Linked DNA regions of Homo sapiens: region 1 is linked to region 2. Evidence: fine-mapped expression QTL. A gene starts in region 2. The other region holds a variant in brackets. All regions are shown on one strand. Distances are between the middles of the regions. Region 1 overlaps MEGF8 (multiple EGF like domains 8). Region 2 holds the start of MEGF8 (multiple EGF like domains 8).

The links. PIP is the estimated chance that this variant, and not a neighbour inherited with it, causes the effect. A credible set is the group of variants that fine-mapping cannot tell apart.
Region 1: its variant is the best candidate, but not a certain one, in a credible set for the expression of MEGF8 in whole blood (TOPMed, PIP 0.58).

Annotation. Positions count from the first base shown.
Region 1 is chr19:42,338,789-42,353,602 of GRCh38, reverse strand. MEGF8 (multiple EGF like domains 8) reads right to left here. Exons shown (of 42, transcript NM_001271938.2): 9 at 9,972-10,126; 10 at 9,530-9,649; 11 at 9,018-9,162; 12 at 8,770-8,933; 13 at 5,131-5,331; 14 at 3,904-4,104; 15 at 3,219-3,455; 16 at 2,269-2,387; 17 at 2,043-2,174; 18 at 1,842-1,955; 19 at 1,147-1,395; 20 at 476-675; 21 at 1-138. It overlaps MIR8077 (microRNA 8077), which reads right to left and starts at 2,472; the gene lies at 2,398-2,472. RefSeq lists an enhancer at 3,299-3,800. The variant G/T (reference allele first, on the strand shown) is at 6,544.
Region 2 is chr19:42,317,886-42,332,699 of GRCh38, reverse strand. It overlaps MEGF8 (multiple EGF like domains 8), which reads right to left and starts at 7,065. Exons shown (of 42, transcript NM_001271938.2): 1 at 6,270-7,065. The coding sequence starts at 6,456. It overlaps TMEM145 (transmembrane protein 145), which reads right to left. Exons shown (of 15, transcript NM_173633.3): 13 at 12,263-12,383; 14 at 8,911-9,117; 15 at 7,636-7,963. The coding sequence ends at 7,883. RefSeq lists silencers at 6,400-6,469, 6,480-6,549, 6,770-6,909, 6,950-7,139.

The DNA of each region.
Region 1 (14,814 bases), 21 kb before region 2:
GCCCACTGAGGTTGTCGCAGTGGCCACGGCGTGGGTCCCCGTGCCCGTTGCACTGGCAGGGCCGGCAGCCCCTAGAGCCTGTGGCGTTGCCGAAGCTGCCGGGCCGGCATCGTTCGCAGTGCTCCCCCCATGTCCAGTCTGTGGAGGCCCCAGCAGGTGGGACAGAGTCAAGTCAAGGGTGGAAACAGGCCCAGGCCTACTGGCTCAGCTAAACCCTGACCCCACCCAGCCGCTTCAAAGGTGAGAAACCAAGGCCCAGATCAGGGGAAACAGCAAGTCCCAAGAGGGGGAACTGAAGCCCAACCAGAGTGACGGGTGGCACTGAAACCTGTTTGAGTCAGGAACAGGAATGGGGCAGGGGACCTAGAGCTGCATGAGAGGACACTGAGGCCCCCTCCAAGAAGAGCAAACTGGAGCCCCAAGAAGGGAGGAGGCTCCCTGGGTCCAGGCTGGGCCCAGGACAAGGGCTGCTTACCCTGGCACTCGTCGCAGAAGCCAGGGCCCCGCTTGCGGCAGTGGCTGTGGAAGCTGCAGCCACAGTCCCGGGAGCAGCGGGGGGCTGGCGGACCCGGGGCGGGTGTGGGAGGGGGCAGGTCTGATGTCCAGCCTAGGTCACACACGCAGGTAAAGTCCGGGGGGCCACTGCACACACCATGGCCACAGTCCTCCAAGCACCTGAGGGGCCGTGTTGGGGGTGGGGAAAGCGCCAGGCAGGCCCAGAGCCCCTAAAGCACCCCATCATCTCCACCCACCATGACACCATCAAAGCCACTGGCTGTTTCCATGGTTTTGGGCTATGTGGGTGACCCTGTCTCCAAGGTAACTCCATGCATCACCAAGCCTGTCTCTATAGCAACCACATAGCACCACTGTGAAAACCTCTTTCAACTAGGTCCTCCTCCGCCTCCATGGCAACGCTGAAGACTATGGCCCACAGCCTATGGGTGCCCCATTTCCATGGTAACCAGGGTTACACTGGGGACCCTGTCACTCTAATAAGGACCTAGTGTGCAAGGTAAAAACCCCTGGCTAACTGGGGATGCTGGTTCCACAGGAGGGGACCCAGCGCCATGATGGCTTCCTCCCTCCACCTCCATGTGCCCCAGCCTGGGGCAACATCTCCATAGCAACCCCCGCCTCACTCACGTGCGGTTGCAGTGTGAGATGCCATCACCCTGGTAGCCCCGCTGGCAGTGACACTCGTAGCTGAGGGGCGTGTTCAGGCAGGTCGCCCGCGGGTGGCACCGGGCCAGGCCCAGGCGACACTCATCCACGTCAGGACAGCGGGCGTATGCCCAGCGGGCAGGGAGGGCCACGGGAAGCCCCAGGCCCTCCCCCACCCACAGGGAGCAGTTACCCCCACCGAGGGGCCCTGAGAAGTCCCCCTGTAGGCACCTGCAGGGTGGGAGAGTGAAGAAGCGGGGGACAACATAGAAACAGGAGCCATACATAGAAACAATGACAGGGAGAGAGGAGGCCAATTGGAAGGAGAGGGATGCAAATACAAATTTGGAAAGAGAGACAGAGAAACCAGGAGAAGTCGCAGACAAAAACAATTTTGGAAGACAGAAGAGAGACATAGACAGAGATGCAGTGAAAGGGAGAGCGGAGAGACAGAAACAGACAAGGAGAAAGAAAACGAATCGCAGAGAGCCGGAAAAGGAGGAAAAATGGAGAAAAAAGAGCGGGAGGGTAAAATAAACAACAGAAAAACAGTACGGAAAAGGGAAGGTGGCCATGGGATGGGCAAGAGGGCAGAGAAGCAAAGAGGCCATTAGAATGACCGGTCATGGAGGAAGGACACAGCCGGGCACCCTGCCCACCCACCTGCCCGGGCTCACCGTCCCAGTGTGGGGTTGTCCTCATTGCCACACCAGCCACACTCGTGGCTCTGCAGACACTCATGGCAGGTCAGGAAGCCATCGCAGCTCCGGCACCGTGGCTCCGAGTGTACACTGCAGGATGGCAGGGGTGGGGGTCAGAGCCCCAGCCCCTTGCCGGTGGGGAATCTTCCTCTGTTAGCCCTGCCCCAGGGACCATACCTGTCGTCCCAGCCTCGACAGCCCCCGTGTGGGTACCGGGCCAAGTAGGCAGCAAACAGGAAGCAGGTGTGGGTGGACTGGCACCAGGCGCACTGGCTAGAGTTGGCCAGGCAGTCCTCACAGGTCAGTCGCCTGGGGTGGGGAGCAGGGGGCCAGGTCACTCCACAGCCAGCACACATCCCCAGGCACATCCACCCACCCACTCCCTGCACCCAGCCTGACTCACTGGCTGCAGAGCGGGGGACACTCCTCTGGACTCTTCAGGGCACCCCGACCCCGGCCCCGCCGGCTGCATGCCGCGTCCCCTTTGCGGCTGGTGCTCTGATGCCACTCACAGAAGGGGTCCTGGGGGTCAGTTGGGCAGAGGAGTCAGAACCCCACTCAGCCCTTTCCTTTGGACTCCCAGTGCCCATCCCACCCCCTGCCCCACCCTGCAGACTGTCCCTGTAAGGCCATCTCCCTCCCCAGCTGCCTGCGTCTCTGGACCCCTCCCTTCGACCACAGACACCCATGGGTCGGCCCGCCCAGCACCCACTGTCTCCTTTAGGCAATAGCACCCCTTCTGTGTGGTCCGGGTGGGGCTTATTCAATCCTCAGGATCCAGAGGTGGGCAAGGGGCCACATTCCCTCCCCACAACTCCAGTCATTGGCCCAGGAGCCTGTACAAGGCCCAACCAGAGCCACAGAAGTGCAATTCTGGGACTTCTGTTGAGCTCCTGGATGGTGGTGGGGTGGGGGGAGAGAAATAGGAAGCCTCACTCTGTTTGAGACAGAGCAGGGACTTAGAGCCTGGACCCTTAACGGCTCCCTTGCCACTCACAAGGAAACAAACCCTCCCAGGGAACAAGAGGAAGCAGGGTGTCGAGGGCTGCCTGACATCACTTGGAGGTGGCAGGCCTGAAGGCCTACTCCTGGGCTCCAGTGCCTATGCTGAGAAACTCCCCGCTAGTGGAAAAGGATGGAGTTGCATTCTCTGGCCCCTACAACAGGGAGAGTCCTGACTCCCCAGGTGCCTCTCTCTACAGCTCCATCTCACCCTCCCCACCAGGCTCTGCAGATCAAGGCCAAAAGCCCTTGCTGTTTCCCCCACACCCCCCACCAGGGGTTCCCTTGACTGCCCATTGCCTGCTGTGGCTCCCTCCACCTTGTGACCTCCCCTGGTGGCCCCACAGGCACCTGGGTGCAGGCGTGGCAGTCCCGATGCTCCTCGCAGAGTGGGCAGAGGGTAGGCACCAGCACCAGCAGGGACCCACCAGCCCCGTCATCCCCGCAATGGGCTCCGCCCTGGCGCAGGTGGCAGGTGGCACTGGTCAGGCACCAGCCACAGCCCTGGTCTGCCAAGCAGCCCAGGCAGGAAGAATAGGAGGTGCAGGACGACGAGCGGTAGGGCTCCAGGAAGAAGAAGGAGATCTCCTGGGGAAGGGGTCACAGGAAGGCAGCAGTCAAGGTCTGGGGCAGGGGTCAGAGTCTGGCGCTAACTGAAAGTAAGGGTTTGGAGCCCAGGTTGAGAACTCAGGCACATAGGAAGTCAGGATTTAGGAAATCAGTAAAGAGGTCCAAGGTCTGGAGGAATCTGGAGATTATTATAGGTCAAAGTATGGAGGGCAGAGGTCAGGGTCAGCAGGGTCAAGGGTGAGGAGTCAGAAGATGGGGGTCAAAATATGGGATCAGGTTAGGGTCTATAGGCAGAGGTCAGGGGCCACAGGGTTCAAGAGGAGGTCCAGAGTTCAGAGGCCAAGAGTTAAGGAGTCCGAGGCCAGAATCTAGGGATTTCAGAGTTTGTGGCCTGGGGTTCAGAAAGCCCAGGTGATCTGAGGCTGGGGCCTGCGGCTAGGGTTGGAGGTAGGTCCTGGGTACTCACGCTGCCTCCTGGCACACCAGTCCGATCCCACAGCAGAGTTAGCTCGCTGTGCCCAGGGCCTGCCGAGCCATTGAGCTGGCCCTGGATCTCTACTGCATACTTGTGGTCCCGCCCAGGCAGAGGGAAGAGGCGAGCAGACCCAGGGCGCTGCAGCCGCCGCGTCTCCTTCTCCTGATGAGCCACCCAGCGCCCCACCTCCTCCTGGGGTAGGTGTGAGTGATAGGCAGGGGCCTCAGAACCCTTCCCATTCCTTCCTCAGACCCCTGATACCTCCAAACCCACCCTGTACCCCACCCCCTCCTAAGAAGAGGGCCTCAGAGCTCCTTAGATCCTGAGAACCTCAGAGGTGAGACCCCCAGGGACCCTCCTCCTCAGGGGCTTTTTTTTTTTTTTTTTTCTTGAGACAGGGTCTCATTCCATCACTCAGGCTGAAGTGCAGTGATGCGATCATGGCTCACTGCAGCCTCAACTTCCCAGGTTCAAGTGATCCTCCCACCTCAGCCTCCCAAATAGCTGGGACTACAGGTGCATGCTACCATGGCCAGCTAATTTTTGTATTTTTTGGAGAGATGATGTCTCGCCATGTTTCCCAGGCTAGTCCCAAACTTCTGGGTTCAGGCAATCCACCTGCCCCTACCTCCCAAAGGGCTGGGATTACAGGTGTACACCTCCATGCCCAGCCTTCAGGGGCCTTTCAAGTCTGACTCAGACCTTCCTCACCTGCTTCAAAGTTTCCCTCAAATTCTGCTCACAATTGAAAACCTCAGCACCCTCCCTCCTCTACGAAAGATCCATTCCCAGCCAGGCGCAGTGGCTTACGCCTGTAATCCCAGCACTTTGGGAGGCCAAGGTGGCGGATCATCTGAGGTCAGGAGTTCCAAACCAGCCTGGCCAACATGGTGAAAACCCATCTTTACTTAAAATGCAAAAAAATTAGCCAGGAGTGCTGATGCACATCTGTAATCCCAGCTACGTGGGAGGCTGAGGCAGAAGAATTGCTTGAACCTGGGAGGTGAAGGTAGCAGTGAGCCGAGATCGCGCCACTGCACTCCAGCCTGGACAACAGAGTGAGACTCTGTCTTACACACACACAAAAAATCCATCTCCTGCCTCTAATTTCTCCCCAGCCCTTCCCCAGAACCTTCAAATCACCACAGATGCTCTATACCACACCCCTAACTCCCTATTTACCATAAACAACCCCCTGAATGTCCCAGGCGGCCTCACCATGTTCTCCGTGTCAGGGCCACGGGCCATCCGGGCCAGGACGTGTAGGCGCTGGGCCCGCGTCCACACGGCCACGTCCTCAGCCCCTGGTCCACCTGGCCCTCCAGGCAGCATTGGGTAGATGAAGCCACGGTAGACCAGGGACACATCTGTCTCTGCGCTGGGTGTTAGGGTGATGGTCGTGCTGCGGACAATTGAGACCTGTGCCACCAGGGATGGGTGTATGTGTGAGTCCCTTTCTGGACTCACAGGCCACATCAGAGCCAGAAAAGACTGGTCAACCCAACCTTCTTCCCCATTTTACCAAATGAGAGACTGAGGCAGAGGGACAGGGGTTAGGTGGCTTGTCAAAGGTCACTCTGGGAAAAGAGGCAAGACCTAAATTCAGACAATAGACGACAGGGTCCCAGAGCCCACCTTTACCCCTGGCCTCTAGCCATTTCCATCTCACATTAAAACTCCAGGACTGGACACTTCAGTGTCTTCTTATCCAACTCCTCACCTTTCCAGCTAAGCACTTCAAAGCCCAGATCTAATATTCAAAGTGGCAGACAAAGTGCAAGATTTATTTTCCTGGTGTGTGATTTTGTAATAGCAGAAGAGTGGAACAGTCCAAGTGTTCACCAGTGGGAGGCTATTTAAATAAACTACAAATGTAAATGGAATATTATACAACTTAAAAAAAAAAAGAAGAATGAAGGCTGGGCACGGCGGGCACTTTGGGAGGCCGAGGTGGGCAGATCACTTGAGGTCAGGAGTTCAAGACCAGCCTGACCAACATGGTGAAACCCCATCTCTACTAAATACAAAAAATTAGCCGGGAGTGGTAGCGTGCACTTGTAATCCCAGCTACTTGGGAGCCTGAGGCAGGAGAATCGTTCAAACCCGGGAGGCAGAGGTTGCACTGAGCCGAGATTGCGCCATTGCACTCCAGCCTGTGCAACAAGAGCAAAACTCCGTCTCAAAACAAACAAAAAAAATACAAAAAACAGCCAGGCATGGTGGTGCATGTTTGTAATCCCAGCTACTTGGGAGGCTAAGGTGGGAAGATCACTTAAGCCCGGGAGGCAGGGTTGCAGTGAGCTGAAATCGCTTGCCACTGCACTCCAGCCTGGGCGATAGAGAGAGACTCCATCTCAAAAAAAAAAAAAAAAAAAGAATGAGAGTGTTTCTTAAGTTCTGTTATGGGAAGCTTGCCAGGAAGAAAAAAAGGAAGCAGTCGTATAATGTTCATAGTATATTAGTTTAGTGAGAAAGAAAAATGATATGATGTCATGCTTACTTGCATCTGAATAGGTAAATTCTGGAATAAGATCAAAGAAACCCAAATGGATCTTCCAGGGAGGTATGGTGGCCTTAAGTTGCAGCCATGCTGGAGCTAGATAATTTTGGACCACTTAAGGGGTAGGGAGT[G/T]GGGTAAATGAGAGAGACTGTCCATTTAGTGACTTTTTTTTCTTTTTCTTTTTCTTTTTTTTTTTTTTTTTTTTTGAGACAGAGTCTCTCTCTGTCACCCAGGCTGGAGTGCAGTGACATGATCTCAGCTGACTGCAAGCTCCACCTCTCGGGTTCACGCCATTCTCCTGCTTCAGACTCCTGAGTAGCTGGGACTACAGGTGCTCACCACCACACCCAGCTAATTTTTTTGTATTTTTATTAGAGACAGGGCTTCACTGTGTTAGCCAGGACGGTCTCGCTCTCCTGACCTTGTAATCCGCCTGCCTTGGCCTCACAAAGTGCTGGGATTACCGGCGTGAGCCACCGTGCCCAGCCTTTTATTTATTTATTTATTTTTAATTAAAATGGAGTCTCACTCTGTTGCCCAGGCTGCAATGCAGTGGCGTGATCTTGGGTCACTGTAACCTCTGCCTCCCAGGCTCAAGAGATACTCCTCCCTCAGCCTCCCAGGTAGCTGGGACTACAGGCACGCATCACCATGAGCAGCTAATTTTTGTATTTTTAGTAGAGATGGGATTTCGTAATGTTGGCCAGGCTGATCTCAAACTCCTGACCTCAAGTGATCCTCCCACCTTAGCCTCCCAAAGTGCTGGGATTACAGGCACCCGACATCACGCCCGGCTAATTTTTGTAGTTTTAGTAGAGACAGGGTTTCACCATGTTGGCCAGGCTGGTCTCAAACTCCTGACCTCAAGAGATCCGCCCACCTCGGCCGGAATTACAGGCGTGAGCCACCGTGCCCAGCCCCAATGACTTTTGATGTCACTGTGATTTTTGAACCATGTGAATATATGAGCTATTTTTAAAATCAATAAAGAGGCCGGGCATGGTGGCTCATGCCTGTAATCCCAGCACTTTGGGAGGCTGAGGCAGGCAGATCATGAGGTCAGGAGATCGAGACCATGCTGGCTAACACAGTGAAACCCCATCTCTACTAAAAATACAAAAAATTAGCCGAGTGTGGTGGCAAGTGCCTGTAGTTCCAGCTACTCAGCAGGCTGAGGCAGGAGAATCACTTGAACCCGGGAGCTGCAGGTTGCAGTGAGCCAAGATCGTGCCACTGCACTCCAGCCTGGGCGACAGAGAGAGAGACTCTGTCTCAACAACAACAACAAAAAATCAATAAAGAGGTACTGTGGAAAACAGTTTGGACATTCCTCAATAAGATGAATATGGAATTAACATATAACCCAGCAATTCTGCTCCTAGGTATACAGCCACAAGAATTGAAAACAGATGTTCAAACAAAAACGTGTACACAAGTGCTCATACCAGCATTATTCACAATAGTCAAAAGATGGAAACAGCCCAAACGTCCATCAGCTGATGAATGGATAAACAAAATGTGGTCCATCTATACAATGGAATATTACTCAACCATAAAAAGGAATAGAGTTCCTTTCCAAATGAAGTTATAAAATGAATGAGCCTTGAAAACATTACGCTGAGTGAAAGAAGCCAGACACAAAAGGCCACATAGTACAGGCCTCCATGTACATGAAATGTCCAGAACTGGCAAATCCAGAGATGGAAAACAGATTAGTAGCTGCCAGGGACCGGGGGGAAGAGTGGAATAGAGAGTGACTACTTAGTGAGTCCAGGGTTGTCCTCTGGGGTGATGAAAATGTTCTGTAACAAGATAGTGGTGATGATTGCACAATATTGTAAATGTGCTAAATGTCACTGATGAAAAATTTTATGTGTATTTTACCACAATGTAAAAATTCTTTTTAAAATCTATAAGGAGGCCAGGCACAGCGGCTCATGCCTGTAATCCCAGAGTTTTGGGAGGCCAAGGCAGGCGGATCATTTAAAGTCAAGAGCTCAAGACCAGCCTGACCAACATGGTGAAACTTCGTCTTCTACTAAAATACAAAAATTAGCTGGGCGCAGTGGCGGGCATCTGTAATCTCGGCTACTCAGGAGGCTGAGGCAGGAGAATCACTTGAACCCAGGAGGCAGAGGTTGCAGTGAGCTGAGACTGCGCCACTGCACTTCAGCCTGGGTGACAGAGCAAGACTCCCTCTCAAAAAAAATAAAAAATAAAGTCCATAAGGAAAATAAGACCCTTGAATGTAAAGAGTTTTGGAGTAAACATAAGAGTGATAAAGATGCATTTGAGAAAAAACAAACCCTAGGATCAGGATCATCAACACCCCACCCAGGGCCACGCCTCCTACCCACCTTGTCAGGCTGGGAGGTATTGGGCGGCTGCTGAAAGGTGAGCAAGTGCAGGCCAGGCAGGAAGCTCTGGGTGACGCAGGCCTCCAGGGACGTGACGAAGACAGGCGCAGGCCCCCACCAGCCCACAGTGCCTGAGATCTGCTCCCCTCGGCAGCGGGCCTGCTCTGAGAAGACAGGGGGTGGGGGCCGGTGGGTCAGTGTGGAGTGCTCTGGCCCCCTCCTGCCGGCCCACTGCTGCGGACACTCACCAGGCCTAGGGAGGCAGCTCTCATTGTGCACGCACCAGCCCAGGGTGCCAGGTCCCCGTGGAGGGGCTGTGGGGCTGCTGAAGGCCAGGCAGGCCTGGCAGTCACCCAGGAGGCGGCCCAGGCCCAGGCAGCTGGCGGCTGGACACTGCGAGGAGGAGAGGGGAAAGGGCTCACTGTCAACTGGAGCTCAAGAGATCTGGGAAGGAAGGGCTGTGGATACAGGGTCCTGCGATGGAAAGGGCGAAAAAACTGAAGAACGGGGAGTTGACTTGGAATGTGGGAGATCCAGAGGACGGGGGATGCGGGGATGGGGTCACGGGCTCAAAAGGGTCGGGCTGGGTGGGATAGGCAAAGGTTCAGGGCTCCGCAGTCAGGAATCAGGAAGGAGGATCTCCGGCATGAAAACAAGTCTCCCAGTTGAGGGAAAGTTCTTGTCCATCTGGTTAGGCAGAGGGAGACACTGAGGGCAGGTCTCTATGCTAGGGAACAGAGGGTCTAGGGCTGTCACTCACAGCCCCCAAGGGGGTCCCAGGAGGGGGTGCAGCTTGGCAGGCTCCTTGGCACCAACTGCATTCCGGGTCCCGGGAGCAGACGCTGTGGTCTGTGTACATGGAGCAGTAGTCCAAGTGGTACTGCAGGGAGGCAAGGGGACAGAGGGGGAGGCAAGGGGACGGAGGAGGAGGCCTCTCAGACCTGGGCCGGCCTCCCAAGTCCCCGCTTGCTTTAGCTATCCCAGAGGACCCTGAGTGCTCAGCATGCCCATCCATTCCTCCCCCAGGCCCAGGGACCTCTAGCTCCTCTTTCCTCTGCCCCAGGGACCTCCTTCCCTTCTCTCATGGTCCTAGGGATCCCCACTCCTTCTCCCAGGGATCCCCTCCTGCCTTTCCCCTCACCTGTGGAAACCCTGCTACCTCCTCCCCCCAGCCACCCTTTCCCTGTCACCCCAGTGCTCACGTCAGGGGCAGGTGCCTGGAACACAAAGGGGGGCACCTTGTACGCCATCAAGTCCCCACGGGGCCGGCCGCTGTACCCCCCAGCCACCAACAGGACGCTGCCACCAAGCACCGCAGCTACATGTGAGTACCGACCACTGGGAGGCGCTGCTCGGCCTAGGGGAATAGAGACCCCAATGACATTATTAGACCCCCAGCCCCTCCACCACCTCCATGGCTCCTGATTCTCCTGGGCCACAGCCCAGCCTTCTATTCCGGTGGCTGCTTCAACCTCACCTGCCCAAGGACACTCTCCCAGCCCACCTGGCCCTGAACAAGCTGAGCTCCCTCGCCCCTACCCAAATCATCTTTCTGATCTTTAGGGTCAGAAAGACTTGGGTTCAAATCCTGCATCTACCACTTACTTGGGTTCAAATCGTGGATCAACTACTGACTAGCTGTGTGACCCTGGACAGGAGACTGAACTTCTCTGAGTCTTGGTTTCCTCCTCTATAAAAAGAACCATCATCTCGTCCTCAGGGAGCTGGGAGGACTGAAGAATCTGCTGAGCCCCCAGTAGGCTGCCTCAGTCTCCCATTTTTGTCTGTCTAGCACCAGCCTCTCTTCTGGTGATAGCGCCTGATTTTCCTCTGGAAAACCAACCTTTCCCTTTCCCAATCTGTGAGACTTAGGTGGAGTTGTCCCTGGTTCTGGCAGAAGTGAGGCCTTAGCCCAGGCCCATCAGTCTCAGTGACTGGCTCAGGGAGGGGTACAGGGCCTGATTCTCAATTCTTGGGGCAAAGACACTCCCTTCTTTCTGGGCATTTTATGGCAGAAGATAATCCACGAGCTGCCTGTGACCATCTACACAAGGCAAGAGACTGAAGTGAACCCAGCTGAAAAATTGAGTGAGAAATGGCTGATGCCATTTTGTGAGCACCTAGATCCAGCCCAGCCTGAAGACAGCCCCTACAGTTTTCACTCAAGTGAGCCAGGAAATTCCTTTTTTTTTTTTTTGAGACAGAGTCTCGCTTTGTCACCCAGGCTGCAGTGCCGTGCCACGATCTCAGCTCACTGCAAGCTCTGTCTCCCGGGTTCACACCATTCTCCTGCCTCAGCCTCCCAAGTAGCTGAGACTACAGGCGCCCGCCACCAAGCCCGGCTAATTTTTTGTGTTTTAGTAAAAACGGGGTTTTACTGTGTTAGCCAGGACAGTCTCGATCTCCTGACCTCGTGATCCACTCGCCTCGGCCTCCCAAAGTGCTGGGATTACAGGCATGAGCCACCGTGCCCAGCCAGAAATTCTCCTTTTTGCTTAAGCCAGCTGGGTTGGGTTTCTGTCAGTTACAGCCAAGAATCCTGACTGACAGGTAAGTGGTCAGTGAATGGTGACTTCCCTACCCTCTTACTGACCTGCGTGCACTGTAAACGTGTGGGACTTGGCCCAGGTAATCACAAACTGCGAAGCAGGAAGAGGCCTCCAGAAACATCACACTCCTGACTCCTGCCCAGTGAAGGGGACCAAGGGATAGGCAGACGAGACCTAGAATGAGGGCCTCAGACACCAGGCCTGGACTTTATTCCTGATGGTCACACAGGGTTCCTCTGGGGCCTTTCCTCCTTCCCATCCCTTAAGTGCTAAGGTTCCTTCCTTACGCTTGTCCTCTCCTCTCTCTCCTTTTCAGGGAGGAGGAGTGAACAGATGCGACTCTGGGAAGCCCACACGTCCCCGAAGTGATACGCCCAACTTGCAGGTATAAGCATCTTCTGAAGAGAGGGCCTGTGGCTTTCATCCGATTTCAAAGCAGTGTCTGATTTAATGAGAGTGAAAGGTTTCTCCATATCTCCTCCCTGGTGACCCCTCTGGCCCTGAGACAGGACCCTAACTGCTATAAGAAAGACAATATGTCTGGGCGTGGTAGTTCACGTCTATAATCACAGCACGTTGGGAGGCTGGATCTCACAAGGCTCGCTTGAGGCCAGGAGTTCAACACTAGCCTGGACAACACAGCAAGACCCTATCTCTAAAAAACAAAAATATTTTATTTAATTAGCCAGGCGTGGTATTGTGTGCCTATGGTCACAGCTATTTGGGAGGCTGAGATGGAAGGATGACTTGAGCCTAGGAGCTCAAGACCACTCTGGGCAACATAGGGAGGCCTCATCTCTACAAAAAATTTTAAAAAATCTGTTTTTATGTGTGTTTTTTTTTTTTTTTTTTTTTGGAGATGGAGTATCCCTCTGTTACCCAGGCTGGAGTGCAGTGGCACGATCTTGGCTCACTGCAACCTCCGCCTCCTGGGTTCAAGCGATTCTCCTGCCTCAGCCTCCTGAGTAGCTGTGACCACAGGCATCTACCACCACGCCAGCTAATTTTTGTATTTTTAGTAGAGACAGGGTTTCACCATATTAACCAGGCTGGTCTCGAACTCCTGACCTCACGATTTTCCCGCCTTGGCCTCCCAAAGTGCTGGCATTACAGGAATGAGCCACAGTGCCTGGCCAAAAATTCTGTTTTTAATTAGCTGGGAAGGGTAGCATGGGCCTGTGGTCCCAACCACTTGGGAGGCAGAGGTGGGAGGACTGCTTGAGCCCGGGAGGTCAAGGCTGCAGTGGGCTATGACTGCACCACTGCACTCCAGGTTGGGCAACAGAACAAGACTCTGCCTCTAAAATAGTAACAATAGGCCGGGCGTGGTGGCTCATGCCTGTAATCCCAGAACTTTGGGAGGCCCAGGCAGGCAGATTACTTAAGGTCAGGACTTCAAGACCAGCCTGGCAAACATGGCAAAACTTCAACTCTACCAAAAATACAAAAATTAGCCAGGAGTGGTGGTGCACATCTATAATCCCAGCTACTCAGGAGGCTGAGGCAGGAGAATAGCTTGAACACGGGAGGTGGAGGTTGCAGTGAGTGGAGACTATGCTACCGCACTCCAGCCTGGGTGACAGAGCAAGACTCCATCTCAAGTAAAATAAAACAAAATAGTAACAACAATAATAATAATGCCTGGCCGGGCACGGTGGCTCATGCTTATAATCCTAGCACTTTGGGAGGCCCAGGCGGGCAGATCACAAGGTCAACACAGTGAAACCCCATCTCTACTAAAAAAATACAAAAATTAGGCCAGGCACGGTGGCTCACGCCTGTAATCCCAGCACTTTGGGAGGCCGAGGCAGATGGATCACTTGAGGCCAGGAGTTCGAGACCCACCTGGTCAACATGGCAAACCCCATCTCTACTAAAAATACAAAAATTAGCCGGGTGTGGTGGCACACGCTTCTAGTCCCAGCTACTCAGAAGGCTGAAGCATGAGAATTGCTTGAACCTCGGAGGCAGAGATTGGAGTGAGCCAAGATCACACCACTGCACTTCAGTCTGGGCAACAGAGCAAGACTCTGTCTCAAAAATAAATAATAAAAATTTTAAAAAAGAAAGGAAATGTGTGGAGCACTTCACTGGGCATCATTCTTGAAGGATCATCTCAATTTACTCTTACAGCTATCCAATGGCATTACGTGTTATAATTTTCATTTCACAGATGAGCAAACTGAGGCACAGAGATTAAGTAATAGTTTTTGTTTTTGTTTTTTTGGGGACGGAATCTCACTCTGTTGCCCAGGTGGGAGTGCAGTGGTGCGAACTCAGCTCACTGCAAGCTCTGCCTCCCAGGTTCAAGCAATTCTCCTGCCTCAGTCTCCTGAGTAGCTGGGACTACAGGCGCATGCCACCATGACTAGCTAATTTTTTGTATTTTTAGTAGAGATGGGGTTTTACCATGTTAACCAGGATGGTCTCAAACCCCTGACCTCATGATCTGCCCGCCATGGCGTCCTAAAGTGCTGGGATTACAGGTGTGAGCCACTGCACCCGGCCTTAAGTGATAGTTTTATACAGATTGTTGTTTGGGGATAGCCATGCTGGCTCTGTCACTTATCTACTGTGATCTTGAAAAAGTTACTGCTAAAGATACTATCAACAGAGTAAACAATGTACAGAATGTGAGAAAATATTTGCAAACTATGCATCCAACAAAGATCTAACATCCAGAACCTATAAGGAACTTAAATAAACTAACAAGCAAAAAACAACCCCATTAAAAAGTAGACAAAGGACATGAACAGACATTTTTCAAAAGAAGACATACACGTGGCCAATAAGCATATGAAAAAATGCTCAATATCACTAATCATGAGAGAAATGCAAATCAAAACCACAATGAGATACCATCTCACACCAGTCAGAATGGCTATTATCAAAAAGTCAAAAAATAACACATGCGAGTGAGGTTGCAGATGGGAATGTAAATTAGTTCAGGCATTGTGGAAAGCAGTTTGAAGATTTCTCAAATAACTTAAAACAGAATTACCATTTGACCCAGCAATCCCATTATCGGGTATATACCCCAAGGAATATAAATTGTTCTAACGTGTATGTTCAAAGCAGCACTGTTCACAATAGCAAAGACATGGAATCAACCTAAATGCCCATCAATGATAGACTGGATAAAGAAAATGGAGGCCAGGCGCATTGGCTCACGCCTGTAATCCCAGCAATTTGGGAGGCCGAGGCAGGTGGATCACCTGAGGTCAGGAGTTTGAGACCAGCCTAGCCAACATGGTGAAACCCCGTCTCTACTAAAAATACAAAAATTAGCCGGCTGTGGTGGTAGGCGCCTGTAATCCATCTACTCGGGAGGCTGAGGCAGGAGAATCGCTTGAACCTGGGAGGTGGAGGTTGCAGTGAGCCGAGATCCCGCCACTGCACTCCAGCCTGGGCGACAGAGCGAAACTCCGTCTCAAAAAAAAAAAAAAAAAAAAAAAAAAATACATAGAAAGAAAAAAAAAAAAAGAAAATGTGGTAC
Region 2 (14,814 bases):
GAACACAGCTGTCATGATAGGAAAAGCCAAAGCCGGCTGGGCACGGTGGCTCACACCTGTAATCCCAGCACTTTGAGAGGCCAAGGCAGGCGGATCACGAGGACAGGAGTTTGAGACCAGCCTAGCCAACATGGCGAAACCCCGTCTCTACTAAAAATACAAAAATTAGCTGGGCATGGTGGCGGGTGCCTGTAATCCCAGCTACTTGGGAGGCTGAGGCAGGAGAATTGCTTGAACCTGGGAGGCAGAGGTTGCAGTGAGCCGAGATTGTGCCATTGCACTCTAGCCTGGGGGACAAGAGCGAGACTTCGTCTCAAAAAAAAAAACAAAGAAAAGCCAAAGCCACAAGAAAAGGCCACACACAGGCATTCCGGCTGACAGTCCCAACTGAGCTTCCAGCTGACAGCCAGCATCAACTGCCAGCCCTGGGAGGGACCTTCCTGGATGTCCAGCCAAGGTGAACATTCAGCTGACTGCAGCCCCAGCTGACATCTGACTGCAACCTCATGAGGAGCAATAATGCACACGAAATGGTGACAACAGAGTGGGGTGGGTGGCTCACGCCTGTAATCCCAGCACTTTTGAGAGGCCAGGGCAGGTGGATCACCTGAGGTCAGGAGTTCCAGAACAGCCTGGCCAACATGGTGAAACCCTGTCTCTTACTAAAAAAAAATACAAAAATTAGCCAGGCATGGTGGTGCAAGTCCCAGCTACTCAGGAGGCTGAGGCAGGAGAATTGCTTGAACCCGGGAGGCAGAGGTTGCAGTGAGCCAAGATTGCACCACTGCACTCCAGCCTGGGCGACAGAGGGGACTCAAAAAAAAAAAAGAGGCTGGGTGCCGTGGGTCACGCCTATAATCCCAGCACTTTGGGAGGCCAAGGTGGGTGGATCGCTTGAGGTCAAGAGTTCGAGACCAGCCTGGCCAACATGGTGAAACCCCGTCTCTACTAAAAATACAAAAAATTAGCTGGATATGGTGGCACATGCTTGTAATCCCAGCTATTTGGGAGGCTGAGGCAGGAGAATTCTTGAACCCGGGAGGCAGAGGTTACAGTGAGCTGAGATCATGCCATTGCACTCCAGCCTGGGCGACAAGAGTGAAACTCTGTTTCAAAAAAAAAAAAAAGAAATGTTGACAATGGGGCCCACATATCGTGGAGAGTGCCACTACCCCTAACACTGTCACTGTCTTATTCTCTGCCAGTCCTAGTTCAGGTAGCCTCTCTCATTCCACATCCCACATGAGAAGCCTTCTGAACAGGCAGCTCAGGGGAGTCCTCTGGGTGAGGGAAATTAGGAGGCCTAGGCTCTGGCTCTGGCTCTGGCTCTGCCCATGACCAGCTGGAGGACCCTGGGCCAGCCCTTTCCCCCATGACCCTCAGTGTGCCTATCTGGATCCTGGAGACACTCAGCCACCACTGCCAATGGCTGGGTGATCCTGGGCCAGTTCCATGGGCTCTCTGAGCCTTAGTTTCCATGACTGTAAAATGGGGATAATTCCCCCCACCCACAAAGGCTGGGGTGAACATTCAACGAGGTGATGACTCCAGCCTGCCAGCTTAGAGCCAGAGTGTGCCCTGGCTGCCCGGCCTCATCCTGTCTCACCAGAACCACTGATCCAACCTCCTTCTTCCCCTGACATGAGTCTCTGATCTTCCCAACTCAACATCTGGCCCCGTCCCTCCCCTGCCCCAAAGCCCTGCATGGCTCCCTACCACCCTAGGAGAAAGTCCAGGTCCCTAACCTGCTGTTCAGACCCTCGCTTTGTCTCAAATCACCCCACTGCTTACAGCTCTAATGGGAGCTGGGCCTTTGTACAAGCTTCTCCCTCTGTCTGCAACATATTATCCCTTCCCACCACCAGGCCTCTTCCTGATGCCCCCTAGCTGGGTTAGATGCCCCCTCTCCAGGGTTCTCACATCCCATTATAACCTTCATTCCTCTGGGCCAGGAACATCTATGTCCAGGTCTGTCTCCCTGCAGCCTACAAGGCCCATAGAGCAGGGCCTGGATGTGGACCTAATTCCCTCTGCAGCATTGCCCAGACCCGGGCTTGGCAAAGGCTCAGGAAATGCTGGATGATGAAATGAAGAAATACATAAAAGACAGAATACTAAAGCTGGAAGCTCTCCCTCAGGCTCTAACCAGAGCCCCCAAGACATCAGACACAGACCCCACCCATGCTTTGGGGAATGCAGAAGAACCATTCAGCACGGCCACACAACCAGACCTCCCAGAATCTTACCAGCCTCAACCAAACTATAAAGCTCTGTTTCTGGAATCACAAGTACATCTTTGTTAAGTGCCTGCTGGAGGCCAGCTCACCATCTGCCTCCCCAAGTTCTTCCCTAAGTTGAAGGTCTTCTGTTTCCACCCAACCCCCATACCACTCCAGACAGAAATCTGATCCCAAACTCCCTCCTGCTCAAAAGCAGGATGCCTCTTATCCATGAGGATGTTATAAGGACTAGGACTGGGCTGGGCGTGGTGGCTCACGTCTGTAATCCCAGGGCAGATCATTTGAGGCCAGGAGTTTGAGACCAGCCTGGCCAACATAGAGAAACACCATCTCTACTAAAAATACAAAAATTAGCCCGGCATGGTGGCACATGCCTGTAATCCCAGCTACTCAGGAAACCAAGGAACAAGAATCACTTGAACCTGGGAAGCAGAAGCTGCAGTGAGCCGAGATCAAGCCACTGCACTCCAGCCTGGGCAACAGAGCAAGATTCTCTCTCGGAAAAAAAAAGTCTAGGACTAGATAAAGTATGAACATAATACAAAAGTTAGTAGGTTGGTTGTTTATCTTTTTTTTTTTTTTTTCCCTGAGACAGGGTCTCGCTCTGCTGCCCAGGCTGGAGTATAGCAGCGCAATCTCGGCTCACTGAGACCTCAGCCTCCTAGGCTCAAGGGATCTGCCCACCTCAGCCTCGCCGGTAGCTGGAGCTATAGGCACATGCCACCACCCACCAAGCCCAGCTAATCTTTTGTAATTTTTTTGTAGAGACAGTGTCTTACCATGTTGTTCAGGCTAGTCTCTAACTCCTGGGCTCGAGTAATCCTTGCATCTCAGATTCCCAAAGTGCTGGGATTACAGGCATGTGCCACTGCCCCTGGCTGGTTGTTTATTTTATAATAGATAGAGGAAGATGTTGGTTCTTATAGGTAAGAAGTGACAGGCATTGGTAAGAACAGAAGATCATCAAGGGGGATCTGGAGGTCTCCCAGCCTCCTCCCTCACCCCAACATCTACCCAGTTGGTCCCCAAGTCTTATAGGTGAAACTCCACAAACATCGATTGCACTGTCTACACCTCTCCACCCCTCTAAGCCCCTGCCCTAGTTAGGAACTCATCCTCTCTTGCCAGATCAGCTCATCAAGTCTCCAGTCTGCCCCACACCCAACCTGAGGGCAATGCCCTACTCCTGCTCAAAACCTCCTGTGGCTGCCCATCAACCCCAAGGGGAAGGCCAGGCTGCTCAGTGTGACATTCAAGGCCCCTCTTCCCCTGCTTCTGGCTCTCATTACCTCCCAGTCAAAAGTGCCATAAGACCAGGCAAACCTAGATGGGGATCCTGAGACACTCCAGCCACCCTCACGTCTTCATAGAGGCTGTTTGCTCCCTTTTCCCACTCAATAAACTCCTATGCATGCTTCAGAACCCTATTTTAGTGGCTCCTGCTCTGTTATCTGCAGCACAGTCCTCTTTCCTCCCTAGGTACATCCACCCCACCCCTCCACTTTCCTTCTTAGCCCTGAGCACTGTCTCAGTGAACACACTGGGGGCTGAATATCTGTGTCCAGCCCCACCATTCCCAACCAGTCTGAGACGTTTTTTCTTTTTTTTTGAGGTAGAGTCTCGCTCTGTCACCCAGGCTGGAACCACAGATGTGCGCCACCACGCAGGGCTAATTTTTGTAGTTTTAGTAGAGAGGGGGTTTCTTCATGTCGGCCAGGCTGGTCTCTAAAGCCTGACGTCAGGTGATCCGCCCCACTTGGTCTCCCAAAGTGCTGGGATTACAGGCGTGAGCCACCGCACCTGGCCTAACCAGTCTGGGACTCTTTAAGGCCAGAGAGTGATTTATATCCAGCACACAGACCCCTTCGCCACACACACACACACACACACACTTCCTATTCTGTTCTCATCCCACTAGCTTGACAGGAATGGCCCCCAAGCTGGGAACAGGTAGACATGCTATCACTGAGAAACAGGCCTTCATCCATACCCCACACAGCAGCCAGAGAGATCTTCTAAAACATAAATCAGATCATGTCCTCTCCCTGCTCAAAACCCTTCCATAGCTCCCCAGAGCCCCCAGACAAAGACAAAGCTCCACAGCCTCCCAAGGGAGGCCCTGCATGATCCAGGCTCTGTCACACCTCTGGCCTTTGCCCAGGACCTCCCCTGTCTGGAGGCCAGCTTTTACATCCACTACTCTGTGAGGCCTTCCTGGGCTTCTGCAGGTACTGCCTTTCAACTTCTCTTTCACCCCTGTATTGCCCTCAGGATACAGCTCAAAATCACAGAGCCCTACACCTGCTGGCTCCTCCCACCCTGCAGCCTCTGGCTCATTCGTTGTCTTGTATTCTATGTTTTTGTTTTTGTTTCAGATGGAGTCTCGCTCTGCCGCCCAGACTGGAGCGTAGTGGCACAATATTGGCTCACTGCAACCTCCAGGTTCAAGTGATTCTTGTGCCTCAGCCTCCTGAGAAGCTGGGACTACAGGCGCGCGCCATCACACCCAGCTAATTTTTGTATTTTTAGTAGAGATGGGGTTTCACCATACTGCCCAGGCTGGTCTCAAACTCCTGACTTCAGGCGATCTGCCGGCCTCGGCCTCCCAAAGTGCTGGGATTACAGGCATGAGCCACCATACCCTGCCAGTATTCTATGTTTTAACACACTGGATTTCTAGTTCTTCAAAAGCATCACTCTCCCGCTTCCCCGCCTTTGCACAGCTATTCTTGCCTGGAATGCCCTTCTGCTCCCTCGTACAGATGCCTCTGATCTCAGCTATACCCCAGGTTAAGCCACATGTCTTCACAGAGAAAGAGCCACTGGGGCAGGGTTCTGAGGCATGCATAGGAGTTTATTGGGTGGAAAAGGAAAACAAACAGCCTCGGAGTGGGTTTGTCTCTCCCACTGACTGGGAGCCCAGAAGGGTAGGGCTGGGGCCTTTCCTCCCACTCCTGACAGATTCCTATTGGTCCTTTAAGTCTCAGCTTAGACATTTCCTCCTCCAGGAAGCCTCTCTGTTCTCCCCGGCCCCAGATCAGGCACTTTCTCTGGGCTCTCCCAGGCCTCTGGGGTTCCTCCATCAAAGACCACTCTTGTCTCTCACTATTAATGTGTTTGTCTCCCCAACTAGACTCCAAGACCTAAGTCACCAGGGATTGCTGGAGCTGTCTCAGTCTGGGCTATGTCCAATGGGAAACATAATGTCTGGCACATGAATGACTGAAGAAAAATGCTTTTATTGAAGTACTTCACAAATAACAACAACAATAATCCTAATGCCATTTATTGAACAGTTACTATATGCCACACATCAGGCATGTTAAATACCTGTTTTCATTTCATTCCAACAACTCTATGAGGTGAGTACTGTTGTTATCCCATTTGTGGGGGAAGGAAACAGAACCTCAGAGAAAGAAAACCACCTGCTCAAAGTCACAAAGCTAATAATAAGAAGCCAGGCACAGTGGCTCACACCTACAATCCCAACACTTTGGGAGGCTGAGGTGCGAGGATCGTTTGAGCCCAAGAGTTCAGGACTAGCCTGGGCGACATGGTGAGACTCTGTCTCTACACACTCAGTTACTTGGGAGGCTGAGGTGGGAGGATCACTTGAGCCCAGGAGGTCGAGGCTGCAGTAAGTAAATTGTGTTGGTACCATTGCACTCCAGCCTGGGTGACAGAGTGAGGCCCCCATCTCAAAAAAAAAAAAAAAAAAAAGTAGTAGTAGTAGAACCAAATTCAAAGCCAAATGATTGGACCCAGACCCTGAGTTCTTAACAGTTACTCAGAAGGCCCGGCACTGATGCTCCTGTCTTGTAATTGTAAATCTGGGTGTAGGTGCATCTCCCCCACCAGACTTGGAGGCCTTCCAGGGCAGGGCCCAGGTTGGCTGCAACCCTGGGTGTCAGGCATTTTAGAGCAAAAGGCCTGGACCAGAACCGAGCTCTGGGAATGTGGTGAGTGGATGAATGCACACATGAATGAACTACCAGCGAATTAGTGAGTGACCCACGCGGCCCCACTCACCCTCGATGAGCCACTCGCAGTTGCCATTGACGCTGTAGTTGCCCGCACCATCCGTCACGAAGCCTGGCGCCTCCCGCAGCACCTGCCGCTGCCCCTTGCAGTCCCCCGCCCGGGCCCCAGGGGACAGCGACCCCAGCACGGCCAAGGCCAAAACCAGTGCCATGGCCAGAACCTTGCCCAGGGCCATCGCCGCCTCCTGCACTGACCCTTAGAGCGGGGACAGGCCGTAAAAACCTGGAGAGGACCCTCTACCCGGGGTGAGGCCCTGCAAATGCGACCTCTATAGGCATAACATGACCTTGTAGATCGAAGAGGTCCCGGAGACCCGGCAGTCCCGGCGAAGGGTACGGCCACTGCTGACAGGCTCTGGAAGCCGAGGGCTGAGCCCTATAGAGCGATGGAAGGCCCTGTATATGGAGTCATTATGGACGGGGCCGAACCCTAGGGACCGTAGGAGTCCCCTATAGACACAGGGCTCCATAGGGGGCCGATCCCATGAACAGTGCCCAGCATTACGGACTCAGGCTGCTGCAGGCCAAACGGACCTTATAGACGGGTGGGTCCCCAGGGGGCGAAGGGCTCTACGGCCCGGCAGGAGCCTCCATAGAGGCTGCGGGCCGGGACAGGCTAGGTTCGGATGGTCCAGGAGAGACTCCTCCAGCCGGGGGCGGGGCGCGAGCGGGTGCCGGGGGCGGAGCCCGTCTTCAGGGGTTCGGGCCTGGACCCCACAGACCCAATCCCTTTGCTCACCCACCCTCGCCTCCCTCCGAAGCCGGATGGGCCAGATCAGAGAGACGAGGGGACGCTTGGGCCAGAGCGGCCGCGGGAAGACCCGCTGTGGGAGGGCGAGGGGGCGGGAGCCGAGCAGCCGCTGTGGGAGGGACGGCGAAGAGGAGGCGAGAAGTTACAGAGCGGCCGGTCAGAGCGGCCCTGGGAGGACTGCGGAGCGCCCAACCCCAACCCTCCATAAAGGGAGACTTCCGGGGAAATCCCCGCCCATTTGTTCCCAACCGCATGCGCAGCAGCGTCCTCCTGGAGGGAGAGAAATACACATATGCGCAGTGCTAAGATCGTAACCCAAACTCTGGGTGCCTGTGGTTCAGCAAAGCATGGGCCACTGGAGGGCGCCTCTACCTCTGAGTGAGGAAAGGAAGGCAAAAATAAAGGAGCGGTGCAAGACCCTGCTAGATGTTTGATCATCTTCAATGTTCCCACATTCTGGGGCAACATAAAGATCAGGTTATACAGGCCCCTGCCTCCGGTTCCAAATTCCCATTTCACAGATGGACACACTGAGGTCCCGAGCCTGACATAGTTCTGGCTCAGCCCCGCCGCTGAACACCATCAAGATGCAAAAGAAGCCATGTTATAGATAAAAACGAATCCTTTTTTATTTTGGCAAGAAGGGGTAAAATGTCTTTCTGCCAGGGACCCGAGGGAAGGCCCCCGGAATGGAGATGCGGCAGATGGAGTACGGGTCCGAGGTCACAGATCCGAGGGAGGGTTTCAGGGTCGAGACCAGCATCGCAATATCCATCCCGGGGTCGCAGAGTCCTGGAGAGTCACAGGCAGGGTCCCGGCGGTCACCACGGGTGTTCCGGAGTCCAGCGGGGTCAGAGGTCTCGAAGGGGGCCAGGGGGCCGGAGGTCACGGAACAGCGGGAGCCCAGAATCCGGCGCCGCTCGGGGCAGGGGCTGAGGGAGGGGACGGGGAGAGCGGCTCCCGCGGGACCGTTTGGCACAGAGGGGAGGGGGGCGGGACGCAGCGTACCCAACCTGGGCGCGCGGGGTGGGAAGGGTCGGGAAGGCCGGGGATGGGCGAGCTCTCGGGCCGGGATAAAGCAGGGGTCCGGAGCCCGGCCGGGGCCCGGTCATGGCCCATGGGGCAGGGGCGGGCAGGGGTGCTCAGACCGGGGGTGCAGTGCCCCCGGCCGTGTGCATGCTGAAGTATTCGGTGAAGCCGGTGTGCGGCGCTGCCGTCTGGGGCACGAGCGGCTGGTAGGGCGGCGTCGGGCCGTCCCAGCCCGAGTCGGCCGCCTTGGGGAACCGAGCGGGAAGTGGGGGGGAGGCTGCGCCCGGCTCGGCCATGGTCACCACGCGGCCCCTCGGGGCCACCGCCGCCGCCACCGCTGTCTCCTCCACCTGCTTCCCGGCCTGGGAGGGGGGTCAGGGTCAGAGGCCGTCCGGGACCCTCGGGGGGCAGATGCGGCCCCGAAGGCCCGTCCCCCTCCCCCGGAGAACCCTTCCACCCCAGGTGTGGACGCACGTTGTCAGTCAGGGAAGGACTGGGTGGCGGGGCGCCTGGGCAGCGGGGCCAGGTACTCAAAGGGCGGCGTCGGGGCGCGCGGGGCGAACTCCGGCGGCGGCCGGGGAGCTGGGGGAGAGCCGCGGAAGGCGGGCGGTGGGGGCACGGCGCAGGGAGTCTGCGGGGGTGTGCGCAACAGCGCCAGAACCCAGTCAGGCAGGGTGGGCGCGGGCGCCAGGGGACGGTCGCGGCGCGGTGTTGGGGCGCGGGGAGTGCGAAAGGCAGGAGGAGGGCTCAGGGGTCCGGGCGCTGGGGGCGGCGGCGGGGCCGGGAGCGGGGTCAGGTACTCCAGGGGCGGCGCCAGCAGCTCCTCGGGCGCTGGGGCCGCGGGGCTTACGGAGGTGGCGGGCGGGGGGATGGAGAAGAGCTCCGTGAAGTTGGGCACCGAGTCGCTGATAAACGTCACGTTCCCATAGACGTGCTGCGGGAAGGCCTTGTCAGCGGATTGGCTCCCTCCGGGTCCAGGGACTCCGGCTGAAGCGATCTGCGACGTGCGCACGTGGTACGGGAAGTTCTTGTTGGCCGCTGATGGGCGGGTCATGATCTGAGGCCAGGGCCAGGAGCAGGTGTGAGAGGCACTGTCAGGCCGGAGGCTGTCCCCATAAACTTGGGGTCCGAAGGATTCCCTTTCAGTTGACATCCACCACACTTCCCTGAAGCCATTCACACTGGATTAGGCGTCCCCTCTGGGCTCTCCAAATGCCCTGGACCCTCACCTTTTCCCTTCAACAAAACTCGGCCTGTGCTTCCTCCATCAGAGGCCTGATCACTGAGCTGTCACTGATTGCTTAGGGTCAGCGTCCTGCACTGTATGATAGCCACTGGCTGCATGTAGCTTAAATTTAATCAAAATAAAATTTAAATTTTGGTCACACTCCTCACTACACACTCACTATGCACTACCCACATTCAAGTGCTCAACAGCCACATGTGGTTAGTAGCTCCCATATTGGAAAGTGCAGGTAATAGGATATTTTCATAAATACAGAAAGTTCAATTGGACAGCAACTAATAGACTCTAAAATGTCTCGATGAGGCAGGAACCAGACTCTTCTGTTCCCTACTGAGTCCCTAGTACCTTCTAGAACCATGCCTGGCGCATATAAGCCTTCAGTAAATATTGGTGGGCAAGGCGCCATGGCTCACGCCTGTAATCCCAGCACTTGGGGAGGCCGAGGCGGGCGGATCACCTGAGGTCAGGAGTTTGAGACCAGCATGGCCAACATGGTGAAACTCCATCTCTACTAAAAATACAAAAATTAGCCAGGTGTGGTGGTGCGCCTGTAATCCCAGCTACTTGGGAGGCTAAGGCAGGAGAATTGCTTGAACCCAGGAGGCAGAGGTTGCAGTGAGCCGAGATCATGCCACTGCACTCCAACCTGGACGACAGAGGAAGATTCCATCTCAAAAAAAAAAAATTTAAAATAAATAAATAAATAAATAAATATTGGTGGAATGTAGGGATGTCTGGTACCAGTTAGTCTGATAGGCTGTGAAGGCAGGGACTGGGTGTGACTCCACCGCCATATCCCGGAAACCTAACACAGCTCTTCTAAGGTTGTGCTGAAAAAAATGAACAAGGAGCTGAAAGCAATGAGCGTTGAGATACCCAGGTGGAGCTGTGCTGAGCTAACGTGAGCATCCTTAGGAAGGAAGCTGGCTGAGATACAGCAGGAAGGGCGCTGTGCTTGCCGTTCTGAGCCTGCATCCCGCCTCTGGGATCTGTAGCTCACTGAGTATGGGATCTGGGGCATGTTGATTAAACTCCCTGAGCCTCGCTGTGGGGAAAAGGGACTGTAGCGCCTACTTGGAAAGATGAGAGGGTGGAAATGAAAACCACTGGTGCAGAGCCCAGCACATGATGGGTTCTCAGCATTTCTCCTCTTTCTGTCCCTTTCTGACTTCCTGCAGAGCTTCAGGATAGACCAGCCTGGGAAGGTGAGCGAGTCTGTACCTATGTCAGCCTCTGAGGCAAAGGATGGGGACCTGTCCCCTCCCTCGGTGGCTGGGCCCACTCCCTACACGGGGTACGTTGTAGATCCCTGGAGTCAGAAGCTGGGACACTGGGTCATGCCTGTTGCCCTTTCTGGTTCCCCTTCATTTCAGACCTTGTGGTCTGCTGGAGAAGGATAGGGTTCAAAGTATTTGCCTGCCGCCAAAGGCCACGGAGCCCTGGCACGTCACTTCTCCTCTCTGGGCCTTAGCTTCCCCGCTCTGTGTAGTGGGAACAATGTCAATTATCCACCCTCTCCTGGAGCTGCTCTGACAATTAAACAAGAGGGCAGGAGTAAATGCATATGGATGTTCCTAGAATGAAACAGACTGGTTCAAGACAGGTGCCCAGTGAACAATTGATGAATAAATTAATGAATATTAGAACTGTCACCAAGAATGTCAGATAGGATGTGAACCAGGGCAAAGAATAGACGTGGTGGGGGCCAGGCGCAGTGGCTCACTCCTGTAATCCCAGCACTTTGGGAGGCCGAGGCGGGCGGATCATGAGGTCAGGAGATCGAGACCATCCTGGCCAACATAGTGAAACCCCGTCTCTACTAAAAATACAAAAAAAATTTGCTAGGCGTGGTGGTGGGCGCCTGTAGTCCCAGCTACTAGGGAGGCTGAGGCAGGGGAATGGCATGAACTTGGGAGGCAGAAGTTGCAGTGAGCCGAGATCGCACCTCTGCACTCCAGCCTGGGCAACAGAGCAAGACTCCGTCTCAAAAAAAAAAAAAAAAAAAAACCACTTAACCGGGCATGGTGGCGTGCTCCTGTAGTCCCAGCTACTCCGGAGGCTGAGGCAGGAGAACCTGGGAGGTGGAGGTTGCAGTGAGCCAAGATCGCGCCACTGCACTCCAGCCTAGTGACAGAGTGAGACTCCGTCTCAAAAAAAAAAAAAAAAGATGTGGTGCTGTACCCTCCTGTTGCCGACCCAGGAGCCCAAAAGCTTCACCCTGTGCCACCCCAGATGCTTCTTCCTGAACAGTGGCCTGTGATGGCAGAATTTGGGCAGGGGCAGGGGGAGAGTGGAGAGATCAAGGAGGGTGGGGAAGGCAGTGGGGATACAAAAGAGAAATGGAAGAATCTGGGGACACAGGGTCAGGAATGGAAATGGGAAGGGAGGGCAAAGAGAGAGGATGGGGGTTGAGGAAAGAAGCCAGGACACAAAGTTGGAGAGGGGAACAGAAGAAAATGGGCATGGGCCCGGCGAGGTGGCCCATGCCTGTAATCCCAGCACTTTGGGAGGCTGAGACGGGTGGATCACCTGAGGTCAGGAGTTTGAGACTAGCCTGACCAACATGGTGAAACCCTGCCTTTACTAAAAATACAAAAAATTAGCTGCATGTGGTGGTGGGCACCTGTAATCCCAGCTACTCGGGAGGCTGAGGCAGAAGAATCACTTGAACCCGGGAGGCGGAGTTTGCAGGGAGCCGAGATCAAGCCATTGCACTCCAGCCTGGGAGACAGAGTGAGACTCTGTCTCGAAAAAAAAAAAGAGAAGAAAATGGACTCTGAGGAGCACAATAGAGGAGACTGCAGGAACCAAGCAGGCTCTCAATAAAGGGAGAATGACTAAAAGGAAAATGGATCAAGACCTCAGAACAGGAGGTCCAGCAGATCAGGTGTAGGAGCCTCACACATCTTCTGCCCTCGGGTCCTCCCCTCCACCCCCCACAGATGCCCATCCTCACCAGAAACACGCCATGGGCGTACAAGTGGATCCCCAGCTGGATGCCATTGACAATCTTCTCCCGGGCCCACTTGGGGATGCCGAAATTGGCAATCAGGGCCATGACAGGAACCGCAAAGAACCTGAAGGGGAAGTATTGGGTCAGTAGAGACACTGCTCCTGTCCTCCACCCCACCCTATAGCCCCACCTCGCCTGCCATGTACACACGCAGACCCCAGGCAGGTCCCAAACTGGAGGGAAGCCAGTGTGACCTTCAGAAGCCAGAGACTGAAATGGGGCAGGACTGGACTGGGAAATTCTGAGGGGCAAGAAGGAGGTTCAATTTAACTCAGTTCCACACCACCCCAAATCCTGGCATCTGATAAGAAATCAATAGACAGCCCGGGCACGGTGGCTCACGCCTATAATCCCAGCACTTTGGGAGGCCAAGGCAGGCAGATCACCTGAGGTTGGGAGTTCGAGACCAGCCTGACCAACATGGTGACACCCCGTCTCTATTAAAAATACAAAATTAGCTGGGTGTGGTGGCATGCACCTGTAATCCCAGCTATTTGGAAGGCTGAAGCAGGGGAATCACGTGAACCTGGGAGGCGGAGGCTGCAGTGAGCGGAGATTGTACCACTGCACTCCAGCCTGGGCAACAAGAGCGAAACTCCATCTCAAAAAAAAAAAAAAAAAAAGAAGAAATCAGGCCGGGCACAGTGGCTTATGCCTGTAATCCCAGTACTTTGGGAGGCCAAGGCAGGTGGATCACCTGAGGTCAGGAGTTCCAGACCAGCCTGGCCAATATGGTGGAAACCACATCTCTACTAAAAATACATAAATTAGCAGGGTGTGGTGGCATGCGCCTGTAGTCCCAGCTACTCGGGAGGCTGAGGCAGAAGAATCACTTGAATTTAGGAGGCGGAGGTTGCAGTGAGCTGAGATCGTGCCACTGCACTCCAGCCTGGGCGACAGAGCAAGACTCCGTCTCAAAAACAAAAAACAAACAAACAAAAAAAAATAGATATTTGACGAATGAATGAACAAATGATAATAAGAAGTAAGGACTTATTGCATGCCAGGCCTGTTTCTAAGCATTTGATGTATATAAACTCATTTAACTCTCACAGTGACTCTATGAAGCAGATAAAATTTCCATCCCCATTAAAAGGTGAGGAAACTGAGGCAGAGAGAAGTTAATGGGCTCGTCTGAGGTCACATCATCTATAAGCTTTAGAGCTGAGATCTGAACCCGGACAGTCTGGCTCAGAATCTGCCAACCTTATTGCTATGTTATGGTGAACGATAATAATTACAATAGTTTTGGGTGTTTTTTTGTTTTGTTTGTTGTTGTTGTTTTTTGTTTGTTTTTGAGATGGAGTCTCACTCTGTTGCCCAGGCTAGAGTACAGGGGCACGATCTCAACTCACTGCAACCTCAGTCTCCCAGGTTCAAGCTATTCTCCTGCTTCAGCTTCCCGAGTAACTGGCAGTACAGGCGTGCACCACCATGCCTGGCTAATTTTTTTGTATTTTTAGTAAAGACGGGGTTTTACCATGTTGGCCAGGCTGGTCTTGAACTCCTGATCTCAAATGATCCACCCACCTTGGCCTCCCAAAGTGCTGGGGGTACAGGCATGAGCCAGCGCACCCAGTCTACAATAGTTTTTTACTGAACATTTACTATGTGCCAGACACTCGGCCCTCATATAGTGGCCTATGCTTGCTCAAGATATCCCTTTGAGGAGATCCTGTTTTTTTTTTTTTTTGAAGATGAAGTCTTGCTCTGTTGCCCAGGTTGGAATGCAATGATGTGATCTCGGCTCACTGCAACCTCTGCCTCCCGGGTTCAAGCAATTCTCCTGCCTCAGCCTCCTGAGTAGCTGGGATTACAGGTGCCCACCAGCATGCCCGGCTAATTTTTTTATTTTTTGGTAGAGATGGGGTTTCACCATGTTGATCAGGCTGGTCTCGAACTCCTGACCTCAGGTGATCCACCCGCCTTGGCCTCCCAAAGTGATGGGATTACAGGTGTGAGCCACCACGCCCGGCCTGAGGAGATCCTGTTTGGTTTTTTTTTTTTTTTTTTGAGATGGAGTCTTGCTCTGTGGCCCAGGCTGGAGTGCAGTGGTGCGATCTTGGTTCACTGCAAGCTCCGCCTCCTGGGTTCACGCCATTTTCCTGCCTCAGCCTCCCCAGCAGCTGGGACTACAGGTGCATGCTGCCATGGCTGGCTAATTTTTTTGTATTTTTAGTAGAGACGGGGTTTCACCATGTTAGCCAGGATGGTCTCAATCTCCTGACCTTGTGATACGCCCACCTCGGCCTCCCAAAGGGCTGGGATTACAGGCGTGAGCCACCACGCCTGGCGAGATCCTGTTGTTTTATGGGTAAACCTGATGCACTTCTTGTGAAAGTAATTTTTCACAAAGTGAGTAAGTGGCAGATTCTGGGCAACAGCTGCCTGAGTGAAAAGTCCATCTCCCTCACTATGGAGGGTCTGAGATGGGGGGCAACCACTTCTGGGGAGCCCCGAGAGGGAGGCAGGGACAGGCTGGGGCCCACCAATTC